Linked DNA regions of Homo sapiens. The protein of the gene in region 2 purifies or fractionates together with the protein of the main gene of each other region. This does not show direct contact. Each region holds a gene or a part of one and is shown on either strand. Other genes may lie near its edges.

Region 1 (3,999 bases), on a different chromosome or scaffold from region 2:
CTTTAGGACACTGAAGGACTTTAAGAAAATCAGATTTGCATTTCAGAAAGATCATCCCCAGGGAGTAAAGGAGGAAGTCTAGATGTTTCTGGAAAGGAAGAAAACATTGAAGAATCAGACTACTGAAAAGATTATTACAGTAAGTTAGGTGGATAATGAGGGCCCCTTACCAAGGCACTCACAATGTAAACTCATTCATTCAAAAACTCGTATGTAGAATCTATTATTATTCAGAAAATAAAATCAATTATACTTGATGACCATTTGGAAGTTAGAAATGGAGAGTGAATCCAGGCTGAGGATGACTCCTTGGTTCTTGGCTTAAGGCAACAGCATGGTTATGATGAATGGAAATACAGTACGAACAAGAGAGAAGAATAGTTTGGAGGGAGGACCACATGCTAGTTTTGGGTATGTTTGTGGAAACAACCTAACAGACATCCTTGACTCCAGGTTCTCTTCCTTGCACACTGCTACTAAACTGAACTCAAGAAAAGCATTCTATTTAGGAATATATGCTGCCAACCTATTTCTTGGAACATTAATTCTAAACTGGCTTTCAAGATCCTCTGAGGCCTATTCGCTCCAGTTGTACAAGCTCATTTCTTACCATGACATTTCTAAATATTCACCTTCCTCTACCCTGGTCATCTTGCTGATCTTTTCAATGTTCCACCCACCATGCTCACCCCGGCACAAGCTACTTGGTTGGGAATCAAGCTGGTCAGAAAGACCTTGACTGCTAACCTTTTGAGTTTAAGCCTGAGGCTCTCACTTGAAACTCTGTATTAGGAATATTAACACACATCGCACAGCTCTCCCAATTAGCACTAACAGGCCTCTCTCAGGACCTCATTTTCTGCTGCTCTAAAACTAGCTTCCCCAAATGAATTGCATTTATGTCCTGGGTTGTCAGACTGGCCTGGGTTGTCCATAGAATTCTATTGTCACATATCTAAAGCTCACTTATTATTTAAAGAACTTCAGCCATCCCACCCACCCTACCCTCAAACCTATATTTACAGTACATATCACATATTTTAAATATTATACCCCAACATATTGTGTCCTGTGATCTCCCCACGTGGACAGACCTCTACATCCTTGGAGGGAATGGAGGTATTTGTTTCCTCATAGCATGGTCAGTTATAAGTCTAAAAACTGTTGTTAACCAAATTTTAAGGTTATTTCAGTCCTATGTTTTTAAACAATAAGTAAACTAACAGTTAATAGTGCTCCAAATCTTTATGGCTTTTCTGGTCAGTCTCTTGTTCCAAAATTCAAAGATTAGGATTACAATGTTTCCTTTGCTCTCATCCCTCACACAGTGCCAGGCCTTTATAAAACACTCTCCCATGGGGGAAAAAATGCAGCCAGGCTTCTGCTCTGGCTCAAGATGACTCCTTCTTAACATACTATTCGTAAAGTGTCCTCAATTCACCTGTTATCTCCTATGCCCTCCACTTTCTTGCAAATCTGTTCTCCAACCACACTGAATTTAACCAATGTTTACTGAGTGAATTTAATTAAGCAAGGCAAAACGTGTCTTGCTTTTCCATACTTTAAGTGCTCCCTGCTCTTCTCTTTGCCTGGAATGCCCTTCCTTTTTTCACCTGACAAATTCCTAATCATCTGTAGGACCCCAAAAAATGCCACCTCCTCTAGTGAAACTTCCGCAGTTTCCTTAGACAGAGGTGGTCATTCATTAGGGTCTTCCACATCCTGATGAATTATTTGCTGACACACTCTCCTTGCTACATCCTTAGCTTTTTAGAATCAGGACTGTTTCATTCTTACATTCCCAGCACAGTGTCTGACACTCAATGAGTCCCAATAAACCAATGTCATTCATCCAAAACACACCTTTTAAGGAATGTATAATACACCCTCTTAAGAACTGTAGTCCCCTGAGTCCTCCAGCAAGACGTGTAAAGGGAATTGCCTCCGGAACACTTCTGGAATCGCAGGAAGCCTGTATTCAAGTCAAAGCTCTTACAAGTGCTATTATTGGGAACCGCTGATCAGAACGCGCTTCTCAGGACCACGTTCAGCTCATATATAAAAGCCATCGACGTGCTGCTTTGGATGAAAATCGTTTTCTCTAGATTCTCTGGGGCTACGGCTAGTCACGCTAAATATCACTTATCCCTAATAGCGCTCATATCCCTGGAGAGATTTTTAAATCAATTGCCTAACAGACCTCACTACGTACAACTTTGAACAAGTCTGTGGGGACCACAAAAGCACAGATGACAGGGTTCTTAAGGTTAACAAGGCCTCGGTCCCACACTAAGCTTTTAAAACTCGGGAGGCAGCAGTTGCAAAAGCAAGCCTCAGGCTGCTCACCTTCTAGGATGGACACGACGATGAGCAATTGGTCGGATTTGGAGACCATGGTTGCGGTGAGCGGTCCGGGGGCGAAGGCGGCTGGGGGGAAGTGAGGTCCAGTTGAGTCGCGGGTAATCCGGGACCCCCGGCGGGACCCCCACTGCCCGCCCCCGGTCCCTGATGCCCGGACCCCGCTCCGCAGCCAGGTCCCACCGCCGTCTGCTGCAGCGCGCCCGGCTCCTCTGCCTCGGGCCGCCAGCCCAGATCCTAACTGTGCCCCGACTCAAGGAAAAAGCCACGCTGCAGCCCTGCCAGTCTGCAAGCAGAGACAAGCCCGCCACCCGAGGACCTTTTGCCGCCTGCGTAGCCGCTTTTCAAACGCCCGGGCGGCCGCAGCGGCCGCCGCCGCGCCCAGCTTCCGCCTAGCAACCAGGCCCGCAGGCCCAGTGCCCAGGGGAGGTTGGAGGACAACGGGTGATAGAGACAGAGCAGTCAAGGCTAGAACGCCCGTCAGCGAGCTTCGCCTCCCGCCCTTTTACGCTCTGTTCCAGAGCCCTAAGGAGGACGCCTTCATTACCTCACAGCGCCCTCTGCTAGCCGGACGAGGAGAGGCGGGCGACTTGGTGTGGGACCAGCTGCGCAAGCGCACTACTGCTGTAAACGCTTCCTGAAGCTGCGTAGCCTTTAAGGAGCGTGAGTGTAGCGTATTACCTGCTTTATGCTTCAGCCACAACCTGAGAGTTATATTAGTGGGGATTAAAAAAACAAAAAAACCTAGCTTAGTTGACGTACCCAGTGTCAACACTGCTTAAAAAATTAAATCACAAAAAAATAATGACTTAAATCTAAACTCTAAAGTCCCTAAATCGTGCTCACGCGGCACCTCAAATTTCCGACCTTTGAAAACAAGTAGCTTCAATACGGTAATTACTGTACTTGTTAAAGCTGACGTAAACTCCCCGAGAATTTCCTGTCCCTTAGAAATTACCCCTAAAACAAAAACACTGTCACGTGGGCAATGAAATATAAAGGTTCTTCCACCCCCGATGACAAAGTTATTAGCAAACTCAAAACCAAAAATAAACAAGGCATTGAGGTGCTGTCTGCCGACCCTTTCCCCTTAACGTCTCCCAAATTCAGATTTAAGAAACGGTTCAAGACTTGTAAAGGGAACGGCCTCCTAAACACTACTCAAATTGCAAGAAGCATGTATTCAAGTCAAAGGCAAAGTTCTTTTGGAGGTTATCTAGCTTGAAACTTAAATAACCGAATTGGTTGGAGCGATCGTGGACACTATTAAGTTTGGGAAAAATTCTGCTTCGGAAAACAAAAGTAAATCATAATAAAATAAAGCTGCAGAGATAGCACTAGGTAGTGGACATAAGTGCGGCTTCTCCTATTACTTTCTGGTTTTGTAAATTGAGAAGTTGTTTTGAGAGCAAATATAATATCTCGCTGTTTTCTTTTTCTTCTATTGCTTCCTTGTTTTGGAAATTTAGAAGTTATTTTGAGAGCAAATAATATAATATCACTATTGTTTTCTTCTTCCTCTTCTTTATTCTTCCTTCTTTGCTTTCTGCCCAAAAGAAAAGGAGGAATATGTAGAGATTGGACTAATTACTTCTAAGGCCCTTTCAGGTCCTATCACAGGCATTCTTAAAATGAAGCACT
Region 2 (4,730 bases):
ATATACAACTACTAAAAAAAGAATAAGCCCAATTTTCTACTAATGGATTACGACAGATATATAAAGCAAGTATCATCAAACTGCTGGGTTTAAAATGGTAAAATATCGTTCATGTGTTTGGAGAAGGAGAAGGTTTCAGTGGTAGGGTAGCTAGCTGTGGGACTCAGTTTCCTCTCTGTATCACACATGGGAAGGGGGCTGATCTCTGAGGGCCTCTCCAGTTCTAACTTTGGGATAATGACCCTTGAGCAAAAATAATGAATGCCTTCCTCCAGCTCCCAGAGCCACCTATTGACAATGCCCTAATCACACCCAAAACAGACACAGAAGCTCCCTGAGGCCAGAGGCAAAGCTTGACTCCTGCTCAACAAAGTCTGTTTGGTGAATGGCCAGTTGGCTGCATCCATTTAGAAAGCTGGCCACCTTCTCTGCAAGCACAGCCTCTCCTGAACACCAGAGAGCTGGAGAGGAAAATGAATACTGGGCTTGCTGCCTAGAAATAATTCCTATAATCCAAGATCAACATCTCTGATAACATTAGCCTGCCCACCTCCAGGCCACGGCCAGGCCTGCCATCTGACACTCAGCAACACAAGTCCCAGCCCAGGGGCAGTCTGCTCAAGGAAAGTCTGCTGGTACAGTAGCACTGGCCTAGGAAAGGGGCAGAAAGAAGAAGCACACAGGATCTCAGCTACCAAATCCCCACTTCTCACACTGGATTCTAGTTCTCCCAGGCAATCTCTGCAAAGGCTAAGAAAATGGCCAAGCATGCAAACTCATTAGAAGATGGTGATTCCCAGCTTACAGGGAACACATGTTGCTGATCAAACAGGAACTAAGTCTTTGAGCAGCTACACAATTATACCAACATTTACTAACTCCCTTGTCCCATCTTCTTCAGGGAGCTTTCTTGATAATCAGTTATACAGAACTCTCCAATTCTGCAGTGTTCACCAAAATTATTACACAAATCACAGATTTCTGGCCCTGGGCCATATCCAGATTAGTATTTTACATATGGATGCCCCCTCCCCTTCCTTTACTATGGAGAAGTGCCAGACTTCTCAGAATCAAAAAACTTGCAGACATGTGATATTTATCTCAGTGCTGAATACTACAGACAAACATGGGCCTCTTCAATGTTTTTTTCAAAACTCTTACAATTCTTTGATTATATCAGATGCTAAGCTATTTTTAAAGTTAACACTACAGTTTCTTAAATCAATGGAAAATTTTCACTGCTGTATTTGCAGCAAGCAGCATAGTGCTTAGAATATGATAGATGCTCAAAAATATTTGCTGAGTAAATGGACACTACAAACGTCCGTTTCACCATGAAATGAAAGCACACACACCACACCCACACACACACACACACACACACACACACACACACACAGAGGATATGAGGGCTTAAAGCATGCATTTAGCCAACAAGCATCTAACAGGTGCTGGGATCCTCTAAGTATGAAAGGCACAGTAGTGAAATACACTGACAAAATATCCTAGGAGGTGATGCTCTGGTAGGACACAACAGCAGACACTCAAAGACTAGACCAGGAGCAAAACCATCCTGAATCTGTAGCCGACTGAGGGCCTCCTGTGCTGGCTGGTGAGCTACTGCCTGCTGGACAATCACGAAAGCCACAGTCTCCCCAGGGATCCTCTCAGCTTCTTGCCCCTCACATGGCCTCACATATCTGAATGCCAAGATGTTTACTGAACTGAGCACTCCAGGCAAAGTACTTCACAGAACACTAGTTACAAGCCACTAACTAGTCACCACTACCCAGTTTACCATTTCCACATTGCATTCACTCTGTGAAAGCAAACAAAACCCAGCTGAGGGCTGGCCTGACAGGATATGGGTGAACACCCGATCACATGTCATTAAGATCCCACTACATAAATACCAGAACCGAAAATTGCTAATGAAAATGCCTCTCCCTCTCCCAAACTGACAGTCACTTCTACAATGGTGGGGGTCTTTTTCTTTCTTTAGAGGAAGGGGGTGTTACTGTTTGTATTTTGTTCTGACTGGAGGTGGGAAGTCTGCACCCCAGTGGCTCAAAGGTAAAAGCAACTGATCGAGGAGACTGGTCCACCCCCCTCAGACGTGAGGTGGGAGCTGGTACATCTGAATACTCCTTCCATTTCTCAAGAAATCGTCATCTCCACAGAGGAAGGAAACTGGTAATGTGCATATGAGCAAAGCAAGTGCAGCAGGAGAGAAGTCAATGCCGGGGGCCATTAGGAATGCTTCAGGAAAGGAAGTCCACCAGGGCGGGCCGGCCCTAGCCACACACACACCTGCCAAAGCGAGCTTCACCCATCACAACACCCACCACTCAGAAACAAAATTAAGAAGCAACTGCTCAAGATAGGTTCAGCTTTGCATTTATCTACTTTTAAATCTGTTTGCCAGTACATAACATATAAATACATCAACCCTTTGTACCCAACACGATAATCCTCTAACTTAGTTACATAAAAATACTAGGCATGACCAAACCATCAGTGCCACAGTCCAAACGTGTGTCCCCGCAAAATTCACGTGTTGAGACCCAGTCCCCAAGATGATAGTACTAAGAGGGAAGCCTTGTGGGAAGTGATTTAAGTCATGAGGGCAGAGCCCTCTGGAATGAGATCAGGGTCCTTATGAAAGAGGCCAGAGTGGTAAAAGGAATTTGAGGAGAAAAATACATTTAGATAGATAGATACATACATACATATATACAAACATACATAGATGGAGGCCCCAGAAGGAACTTGTCTGTCCCCTTCTGCTATGAGGACACCACTAGAAGGCACCACCTCTAAAGCAGAGTGAGCCCTCACCAGACACCAAATCTGCTGGTGCCTTCATCTTGGGCTTCCCAGCCTCCAGAACTATGAGAAATAAATTTCTGTTGTTTATAAGCTACCCTGTCTACGGTATTTTTTCACAGCAGCACAAATGGCCTAAAACAATCTATCTGGGAGCAGAAGAAAGAAAACAAAAACCTATTTGTCAAACCCTGCTTAAAACTCTTTACTGACTCTAGCTCTTAAGATGAAGACCAAAATCCTGCCCTGGCCCAAGGCCTGCCTCTTCCAAAGGCTATGTCCCCTTCACTCCTAGTTGCCACCAGGCACTCCTTGAGTCCCACATGCAACCAGCACCCCCACCTAAGGGCCTCTGCTTATGCCATTTCCTCTCCCTACAACACTTGACTTCCTCCTCTCCACCCCCACCCCCGCTCCAGTCAACACCAACTCATCCTTTGAGTCTCAGCTCAAATGTCGCTTCTTCAGGAAAGTCTTTCCTAGCCCTCCACCAACCATAAACCAGATCAAGATCCTGAACTATACATGCATTGCATATCTTTCCTTTCAAACTTCCTAGCACTGGTTGGTGTTTGTTATATTTTATTAACGTCTGTCCCCCCCACCTACTGAAAGCTCCAGGAGGACAGGGACTGTTTGTCTTGTCCAGTCATATCCCCAGTGCCTAAGCACACACAGTGAGTGAATGAGTGGGAAGCTCCTGAGGCCTTCCTAGAACACAAGTCAGTGAACTACAGCCTGCGGTCATTTCCAGTCTCTGCCTATTTCTGTACAATCTACAAGGCAAGGGCAGTTTTAACATTTTTATTTTGCTATTTTATTTTTTTGAAACAGGGTCTCCCTCTGTCACCCAGGCTGGAGTACAGTGGAGCAAACACAGCTCACTGCAATGTCCACCTCCTGGGATCAAGCAGTCCTCCTGCCTCAGCCTCCCAAGTAGCTGGGACTAAAGACATGTGCCATCATGCCTGGCTAGTTTGTTTTTTGTTTTGAGACAGAGTTTCGCTCTTGTCGCCCAGGCTGGAGTGCAATGGCGCCACCTCAGCTTGCTGCAACCTCTGTTTCCTGGGTTCAAGCAATTCTCCTGCCTCAGCCTCCCAAGCAGCTGGGATTACAGGCATCCGCCACCACACCCAGCTAATTTTGTATTTTTAGTAGAGACAGGGTCTCACCATGCTGGTCAGGCTGGTCTCAAACTCCTGACCTCAAGTGATCCACCCACCTCGGCTTCCCAAAGTGCTGGGATTACAGGCGTGAGCCACCACATCCAGCCACACCTGGCTAGTTTTTTTTAATTTTTGTAGGGATAGGGTCTCACTTTGTTGCCTAGGCTGGTCTCGAACTATTGGTATCAAGTGATCCTCCCATTTCGGCCTCCCAAAGTGCTGGGATTACAGGAGTGAGCCACTGTGCCCAGCTAACATTTTTAAATGGTTGAAAAAAATCAAAAGAATATTTTGCGAAATGTGAAAATTATATGAAATCCAAATTTCAGAGTCCATAACTAAAAGTTAAAACACAGCTATACTCATTCTGTGGTTGTTTCTGTACTACAACAGCATAGTGACAGATATGGCAGAGTGCGCAAAACCTAAAATAGTATGTGGCCCTTTACATAAAAAGTTTGCCTCTGCTATAACAGTGTCCTTGGAGTCCTGACCATGGGCATGAAATATATGAGACCCGAAAATATGGAACTGACTGTAAGCTCTCTCCTCTGGGGAAGGGTGAGTCATAACCCCCTTTTGGATTCCTGATGTCTGTTAAATTCAGTGGGCATTCACTGAATGGCTGCCACCTCCATGACATGAGGCAAGAATGGCATGTAATACACCTGTATATTTGGGAGTTCTGGCTGATCACTTCTAAAGGGTCAGGGCTCACACCAAAACCAGTGCTTACTG
Region 3 (3,500 bases), on a different chromosome or scaffold from region 2:
AGGCTGAGGCATGAGAATCGCTTTAACCCAGGAGGCAGAGGTTGCAGTGAGCTGAGATCACACCACTGCACTCTAGCCTGGACAACACAGCAAGACTCTGTCAAAAAACAACAACAACAAAAAACCCCAAAACCATAGCTTAAGCATGACACTCCTTTAAGTGGTTGTTCTGTCTTGGCTAGAAAATCACATTTTAAGAAATTCGTAACGTGAAGGTTGTGAACTGTCTAACTGTTCACAGAAGTGGGCTCAGAGTTCATATACCAGATTCTTTTTTTTTTTTTTTGAGAAGGAGTCTTGCTCTGTCGCTCAGGCTGGAGCGCGGTGGCGCTATCTCGGCTCACTGCAAGCTCCACCTCCTGGGTTCACGCCATTCTCCTGCCTCAGCCTCCCGAGTAGCTGGAACTACAGGCGCCTGCCACCATGCCTGGCTAATTTTTTCTATTTTTTAGTAGAGATGGGGTTTCACCGTTAGTCAGGATGGTCTCAATCTCCTGACCTCGTGATCCGCCCACCTCGGCCTCCCAAAGTGCTGGGATTATAGGCGTGAGCCACTGTGTCCAGCCTATATACCAGATTCTTAATAATTAAGAACCATTTGGGAGGCTGAGGTGGGACGACCGCTTAAGGCTAGGAGTTTGAGACCAGCCTGGGCAACATAGGGAGACCACGTGTCTACAAAAAAATAGAATTAGCTGGGTGTGGTGGTGTGCACCTGTAGTCCCAGTTTCTTCGGAGGCTGAGGCAGAAGGATTCCTTGTGCCCAGGAGTTCAAGGCTGCACTTAGCTATGATGATGCCACTGCATTCCAGCCTGGGTGACAGAGGGAGACCATGTCTCAAAGAAAGAAAAAAGAAGCAAAAAAAAAAAAAAAAAAAAAAAAAAAGGAATCAATGCCTCAGAGACTGATGCAGGAACCCAATTTACGAATAAATGCTGGTTAGGCAATGAGCTCCACGAAGGTTCTCAGCTCTCTTTATGGGAACAAACTCCACGCTGAAGCTCCCAGTCCCGTTAAGCACGATCCACAACCCAAAGCAGCTGAAGTTGGCCAGGCATGGGAATGTCACAAAATGAGGCATGGATCCTGGAGGGACCAGCTACTGAAGGTGGCACTCTTTTTTTTTTTTTTCTGTGAGAAGGAGTTTCGCTCTTGTTGCCCAGGCTCCAGTGCAATGGCGCTATCTCAGCTCACTGCAACCTCCGCCTCCTGAGTTCAAGCGATTCTCCTGTCTCAGCCTCCTGAGTAGCTGGGAGTACAGGCGTGCTTTACCACGCCCAGCTAATTTTTGTATTTTTAGCAGAGATGGGGTTTCATCATATTGGTCAGGCTGGTCTTGAACTCCTGACCTCAGGTAATCCACCCGCTTTGGCCTCCCAAAGTGCTGGGATTACAGGCATGAGCCACTGCACCCGGCCAACTATTTCTTTTTGTTGTTGTTGTTCATGGTTGGCAAAACTCTGGCCAAGGTGTGGCCAAACCACAATTCAACAAGTCCCGTCTGCTTGCCTACGTTGAGAACTTGGCATAAAGGGTAGAAAAAGGAGAGCCAGGCATGGTGGTGCGTGCCTGTAGCCTAGTCAGGAGGTTAAGGCAGGATTGCTTGAGCCCAGGAGTTCAAGGCCACAGTATTCCAATGCACACCGGCCTGGATAATATAGGGAGAAAAGCTGGGTGTAGCGGCTTGCACCTGTAATACCAGCACTTTGGAAAGCCAAGGAGGGAGGATCGATTGAGCCCAGGAGTTCAAGATCATTCTGGGTAACACAGCAAGACCCATCTCCACATAGACAAAAATTAACTGGGCATGGTAGCACATGCCTGTGGTCCTAGCTACTTGGGAGGCTTAGGTGAGATCACTTGAGCCCAGGAGTTTTGAGGCTGCAGTGAGCTATGATTGCACCACTGCACTACAGCCTGGATGACAGAATGAGGCCATCTCTTACAAAACAAAACAAAACAAAACAAAAAAAGGTAGAAAAAAGGGGAGAGCTGGCCAGGTGCGGTGGCTCACGCCTGTAATCCCAGCACTTTGGGAGGCCGAGGTGGGCGGATCATGAGGTCAGGAGTTCCAGACCAGCCTGAACAACATGGTGAAACCCTGTCTCTACTAAAAATACAAAAATTAGCCGGGTGTGCTAATGCGTGCCTGTAATCCCAGCTACTTGGGAGGCTGAGGCAGGAGAATCACTTGAACCTGGGAGGCAGAGGGTGCAGTAAGCTGAGATCGTGCCACTGCACTCCAGCCTCAGCAACAGAGTAAGACTCTGTCTCAAAAAAAAGAAAAAGAAAAAAACAAAAAAGGGGAGAGCAGTAGCACTGCAACCCACAGGATGCATCTCCAGGAAACACTTGGGAACTGTCACAAAGCTATATAAGCACACAGCAGGCCTATGTGCATGCTGAGAGAAGCAGTGCTGTTGCTTATTAAGATTTGCTAATTATAAGACTATGTCCAGTCCCTTGACAAAACTAAACAAAAGCTTTAACCATAAACATCTGCATCATTTGTCTTCTACCAACTATGTGGCAATGGACTGAATGCTTTTGTTCCCCTAAAATTCATATGTTGAAATCCTAACCACCAAGGTGATGGTATTAGAAGGTCAGGGCTTTGGGAGGTGATTACATTATGGAAGCAGAGACCTCAGGATTGAGATCAGTGCCGTTAAAAAACAGACTCCAGGGAGTTAACTAGCCCCTTGCACCATATGAGGATACGGGGAGAAGTTTCTTCTATGAACTAGACTGCAGGCGCATCCAGATACTGAATCTGCCAGTGCCTTGATCTTGGACTTCCCAGCCTCCAGAACTGCAAGAAATAAATTTTTGTTGTTTAGCAGCCACTCAGTTTATGGTATTTTATTATAGCAGCCTGAATGGACTGAGACACACCCTAAGCACGTGGGATTTTAGACTGTCTCAACATGGGTATAATGCGGAATGTACCAACCTCAAAGCCAGTCACTGACCTGCAGCAAGTAGGCGAAGTCGTAAACCTGCAGGTCCAGTTCCATCTCGAAGAACATCTACACTCTCAGCATAGACATTGCCCAGGAAACAGCTCAGAGGCATCATGGGAGCCCTGGGGACAGACACAGAATGAGCAGAGGCTTGGTTCTTTCTCCCAGGCAGCCCAGGCCTTAGCAAGAAACTCATGCTCCTTATACTTACTTGGTATCCTGCAGGCTGTTGCCACTGTAGATGTACATTCGTTTTACAGTTGCTCCATGGGGTATCTGGAGAGAAGCCAGGCCATGGGCAAAATTGGGCTGCAAACAAAGGTCAAGAGTTTTACTTAGGGCACAACAGGTGATGGGACTCAGGCTCTGGTCTTCCCTGTCACTCATGGTCTTCAAGAGCTGCTCAGGTCAAAGGGTCAAAGTACACCCTTAAACCTGGCTCTCTGGCTCTGGGTCAGTAAACTCCCCAAAACCATGTAAGTCCACCTTTAATTCTGCTTGGTTTTCCTTTTCTTTTTTTTTCTTTTTTTTTGAGA
Region 4 (4,179 bases), on a different chromosome or scaffold from region 2:
AGGTCGGAGGGGGCCATGGGGTAACAGCAGAGCCTCAGCTGGGGGTGGCTGAAGGGCTGCCCCATCCTCCCAAGACGGGGAGCTCACACGGCTGTCACCCTGGCTGGGAGGGCCAGGGATAGTAGGTGCTGGCTCTGCAGGGCTGTCAGACAGGTAGACCTCATCAGGTGGGGCACCCGGAGGGGTGGGCCTTGTGGGGCCTCGGCGGCGAGGTCGACGGGGCTTCTCCTGGGTGGCAGGGCCATCAGCATCACTGTCAGTCTCTCCGTAGTAAGCCTCACTATCAGGAGGTGAACGAAGGCTCCCAGGCTGAAGAGGCTGAGGAACTGGAGCACCAGGGGGCTCAGGACTTAGTGGAGATAAGGGTGACAGCACCTGAAGCTCATGGGGAGATGGAGATTGCACAGGACCCTCGTCTGCTAACCTGGATAGGAAAGATGACAGAGCTTGAGAGATGGGCTGGGTACTGACAGCTAGAGAGATCTGGAAGGGATGGAGGGAAGAGGTAAGGGGGAGGGAAGAGGTAAGGGAGAGAGAAGGCTGTCATACAGTTGGAATGGGTGGGCCGGGAAGAGTGGAGATATGAAGACAAACTGGGAGGCAAATGTGCTTGAAGGGCTGTGAGTGGAAATAGGCTTAGAGGAAGATGTAATGAGGAGGAAACAGGCCAGGGGTTGAAGTAGGCTCATCAGTCAAATACCCACTGACATCCCCATCCCTTAATTGCAGATACATTCAAGCCCTCTGGGAGGCAGACACAAACCATCTGCACTCCAGCAGAAACGCACGAGCAGAAATAGGTACCTGTTAGTTGCTAAAGCCAGGCCAGTGAGACATAGAGCTGAGACAGGCAATGGGAGCCCTGGATTAGGGGAAGAGAAGAGGAGAGAGGTCCATACCGCTGCACAGTGAGGACAAGCTGATTTCCTGAGGCATCGATGAGGCTCATGGCACTGGCATGGGAGAGGTTGGTGCAAGAGACCCCATTGATTGCCAAGAGCTGGTCCCTCTCTCGGAGTCCTGCTCTGCCAGCCTGGCTCCGTCTTCGAATCTGAGATGTTGAAGGAGACACTGTAGGTAAGAGGGGGCTCCAAAGGGAATAGAATGAAAGGAAAAGATGGGAAGGACCCACAGGAGGGGATTTTACTTTGCAGGGTAAGAAGGGTGGGGAGATGCATGGAAGTGGCTGCAGTTGAAGTGGCCTGTCTAGAGGGAAGAAAGTATACAGACTGGAGAAAGAAATACATCATATGGTGGGAAATAGGGTAACCATTGAATGAAAGAGGCTTGGGAAGAACTGCATGGGGTAGGTAACTAGAAATGGTGGTTATTGGCTGGGTGCAGTGGCTCACGCCTGTAAGCCCAGTGCTTTGGGAGGCCTAGGTGGGTGGATCACTTGAGATCAGGAGTTTGAGACCAGCCTGGCCAATGGGTGAAACGCTGTCTCTACTAAAAGTACAAAAATCAGCTGGCCGTGGTGGTGTGCGCCTGTAATCCCAGATACTTGGGAGGCTGAGGCAGGAGAATTGCTTGAACCCAGGAAGCAGAGGTTGCAGTGAGCCATCATGTCACTGCACTCCAGCCTGGGCAACAGAGTAAGACTCTGTCGCAAAAAAAAAGAAAAGAAAAAAAACGGAAAGAAATGGTGATTATCTCCACAAGCTTTTTCTCCAAGGGCAATATCTATATTGGCTGGTAATTCTCTACTAGGCCTTGTAACCCCAGGCGCCATTACACAGTCAAGATTTTAGAACAGTACTCCAGGTTGGAGGGAGTCCAGCGGTATTCTGGGAGATTGTGATTATTTGGGTATATGTGTGCCATGTATACACACAAATGTATATATGCCAAAGTAATAATAGTAGTAGTGGCTACCATTTATTGAGTTCTTACTAAGTGTTGGGCACTGTGCTACATGTATTATTGCATTTAATCCTTAGAATGGTTCCATGAAGTAGGTACAGGTACTATTATTACCCACATTTTACAGTTCGGAAAACTAAGCCTGTAGGGTGAAACCAAAAGGATAATGACTTCATCTGTGAGGCCAGATCTTGCCATAACCCTCCTAGCACCTAAAAAAGTCTTGCCTAGTGAGAGAAAGGATCTGACCTAGGGAAAGAGCACTGAAGGCATGGGCAGGGCAGGGTGAGGCAGGGTAGGGCTGGGCTGGGCTAGGCTGTTCGAGGCAGTTTCAGTTCATCACATATCAGTTTAGTCAGAGAGAAATTAGAACCTTCCCCGTATTTCTGGAGTTTGGAGTAGAGGCACATACCCAAGAGAACAAACACTGGATGACCAGAGCTGGGCCTCTGATACCACAGTGCTGCAGGGAACTGAAGCAGAGCCTTTCCTTTTCCTCTGCTCCCTGGAAACCGCGAATTCTCTTTTCTAATAGACCCCCACAGGAAGCCTGTGGTCAGACGCTACTCCCACTATGAGACTTGAGCATACTTCCCTGCCCACCACCCACCCCATCTTCACAGCCTCCCACCCCCCCAACCCCCGCCATATGCCACCACACATCTCTTCCCAGGATCCCTTGGGTTCCCTTTCCCTGAAGCCTCATTTCAGGGGCTCTCCCTTACCTTAGACACCTGTAACGGTTTCCTCTGCTCGGCCCCCCCATGAAGTCGGAAGCCCCAGGGGGCTCCCCCTGATAGTGTGACCAGCACCTCCTCCTCAGCACCCATCGCTCAGCTTGGCCTATGGCCCCCGGAGTTTGAACAGTGTCCCCAGGAGAGAAGTTGAGGTGCTCGAACCCCGTCTGGGCTTCCTGTCCGGCTGTCCTGCTCCTGCTGCCCCAGGCCTCCCCCCCACACCACACACCACAGGCAGGCAACTTGGCCCTGGGATCATTACAGTCCAGCACACATGTCCCGTCAATCGCAGATGTGCTCAAAATAGATGCCGCTTGTACTCCCCTCCCTCCCCCTTCTGTGTTACTCCTAGAGCTAATTATAGTACAAACTTCTGCCCTCCATGTTCCCAATTCTCCTGCATGGGCCTTTTATTCAGGACTCAGAATACAAACTCTCTGGGCTCTATAACCAATGTACACCCTTTCAGGAACTGTGCCTTCTCTAATAGGACCATGGGCTAATCTCAACTGCTTTCCTCCAAAGACCCTTTCAAAGTGGCAGCAGCAGGGGCTTCAATTCCATAGCTGGCAAAGAATGGCTGGGCTTGCTCCAAGATCCCAGGAAAGAATGCACTCTCGCTATATAAATTTATCTGTTAATTAATAAATGGTGGGCCAGGCATGGTGGCTCACGCCTGTAATCCTAGCACTTTGGGAGGCCAAGGTGGGTGGATTGCTTGAGTCCAGGAATTTGAGACCAGCCTGGGCAACATCGTGAGATGGCCCCCCATCTCTATTTTCTTATTATTAAAAAAAGTTAAAAAAAAAAACCAAAAAACTATAGGCTGGGCACGGTGGCTCACACCTGTAAACCCAGCACTTTGGGACCAAGGTGGGCGGATCACGAGGTCAGGAGATTGAGACCATCCTGGCTAACACGAGGAAACCCCGTCTCTACTACAAATACAAAAAATTAGCTGGGCTTGGTGGCAGACGCCTGTAGTCCCAGCTACTCTGGAGGCTGAGGCAGGAGAATGGCGTGAACCCGCGAGGCAGAGCTTGTGGTGAGCCGAGGTCGTGCCACTGCACTCCAGCCTGGGTGACAGAGCGAGACTCCGTCTCAAAAAAAAAAAAAAAACAAACAAACAAACAAAAAACTATAAAAAAACAAATTACCTATTGCAATACATACGTGGTCATGGAAAGGTGTGTAGGTGTGCATAAACATACCAACCCATGTTAATACAATCTCTACTTGTCTCTAGGTTTCCATTACGAGAATGTCTCTGTTACAAGGCATAACATTATGGTGCTATAACTGTGATTATCAAAGGCTACAGAGTTTCATAAAATAGCTGCCCACCTAGTGTATGCTAAATACCGTTTGCCTTGGCATATGCCTCTATGTCCTAGAAACACTTGGGCTGGGTGCAGTGGCTCATGCCTATAATCCCAGCACTTTGAGAGGCTGAGGCAGGTGGATTGCTTGAGCCCAGGAGTTCAAGACCAGCCTGGATAACATGGTGAGACCCTGTTTCTACAAAAAAATACAAAAAAATTTAGCCAGGCCTGCCTGGTCACATGCTCCTATAGTCCCA

The links.
Region 1: the proteins of TBC1D2B (region 2) and CEP120 purify together in Homo sapiens (affinity purification with mass spectrometry; one large-scale study listed by BioGRID and IntAct). This does not show direct contact.
Region 3: the proteins of TBC1D2B (region 2) and PHAF1 purify together in Homo sapiens (co-immunoprecipitation; one large-scale study listed by IntAct). This does not show direct contact.
Region 4: the proteins of TBC1D2B (region 2) and SYNPO2L purify together in Homo sapiens (affinity purification with mass spectrometry; one large-scale study listed by BioGRID and IntAct). This does not show direct contact.

The regions. Positions count from the first base shown.
Region 1 is NC_000005.10:123,420,604-123,424,602, forward strand, and holds the start of CEP120 (centrosomal protein of 120 kDa), read right to left. Parts: upstream 2,801-3,999; 5' UTR 2,396-2,800; coding exon 2,347-2,395; intron 2,264-2,346; exon of another isoform or gene 1,864-2,263; intron 1-1,863. UniProt on the Homo sapiens protein: Plays a role in the microtubule-dependent coupling of the nucleus and the centrosome.
Region 2 is NC_000015.10:78,067,023-78,071,752, forward strand, and holds part of TBC1D2B (TBC1 domain family member 2B), read right to left. Parts: intron 1-4,730. UniProt on the Homo sapiens protein: GTPase-activating protein that plays a role in the early steps of endocytosis.
Region 3 is NC_000016.10:67,133,941-67,137,440, reverse strand, and holds part of PHAF1 (phagosome assembly factor 1), read right to left. Parts: intron 3,274-3,500; coding exon 3,176-3,273; intron 3,087-3,175; coding exon 2,974-3,086; intron 2,814-2,973; coding exon of another isoform or gene 2,692-2,813; exon of another isoform or gene 2,264-2,691; intron 1-2,263. UniProt on the Homo sapiens protein: Plays a regulatory role in autophagic activity. In complex with BCAS3, associates with the autophagosome formation site during both non-selective and selective autophagy.
Region 4 is NC_000010.11:73,653,230-73,657,408, forward strand, and holds the start of SYNPO2L (synaptopodin 2-like protein), read right to left. Parts: upstream 2,801-4,179; 5' UTR 2,694-2,800; coding exon 2,589-2,693; intron 1,078-2,588; exon of another isoform or gene 1,052-1,077; coding exon 900-1,051; exon of another isoform or gene 810-899; intron 425-809; coding exon 1-424. UniProt on the Homo sapiens protein: Actin-associated protein that may play a role in modulating actin-based shape.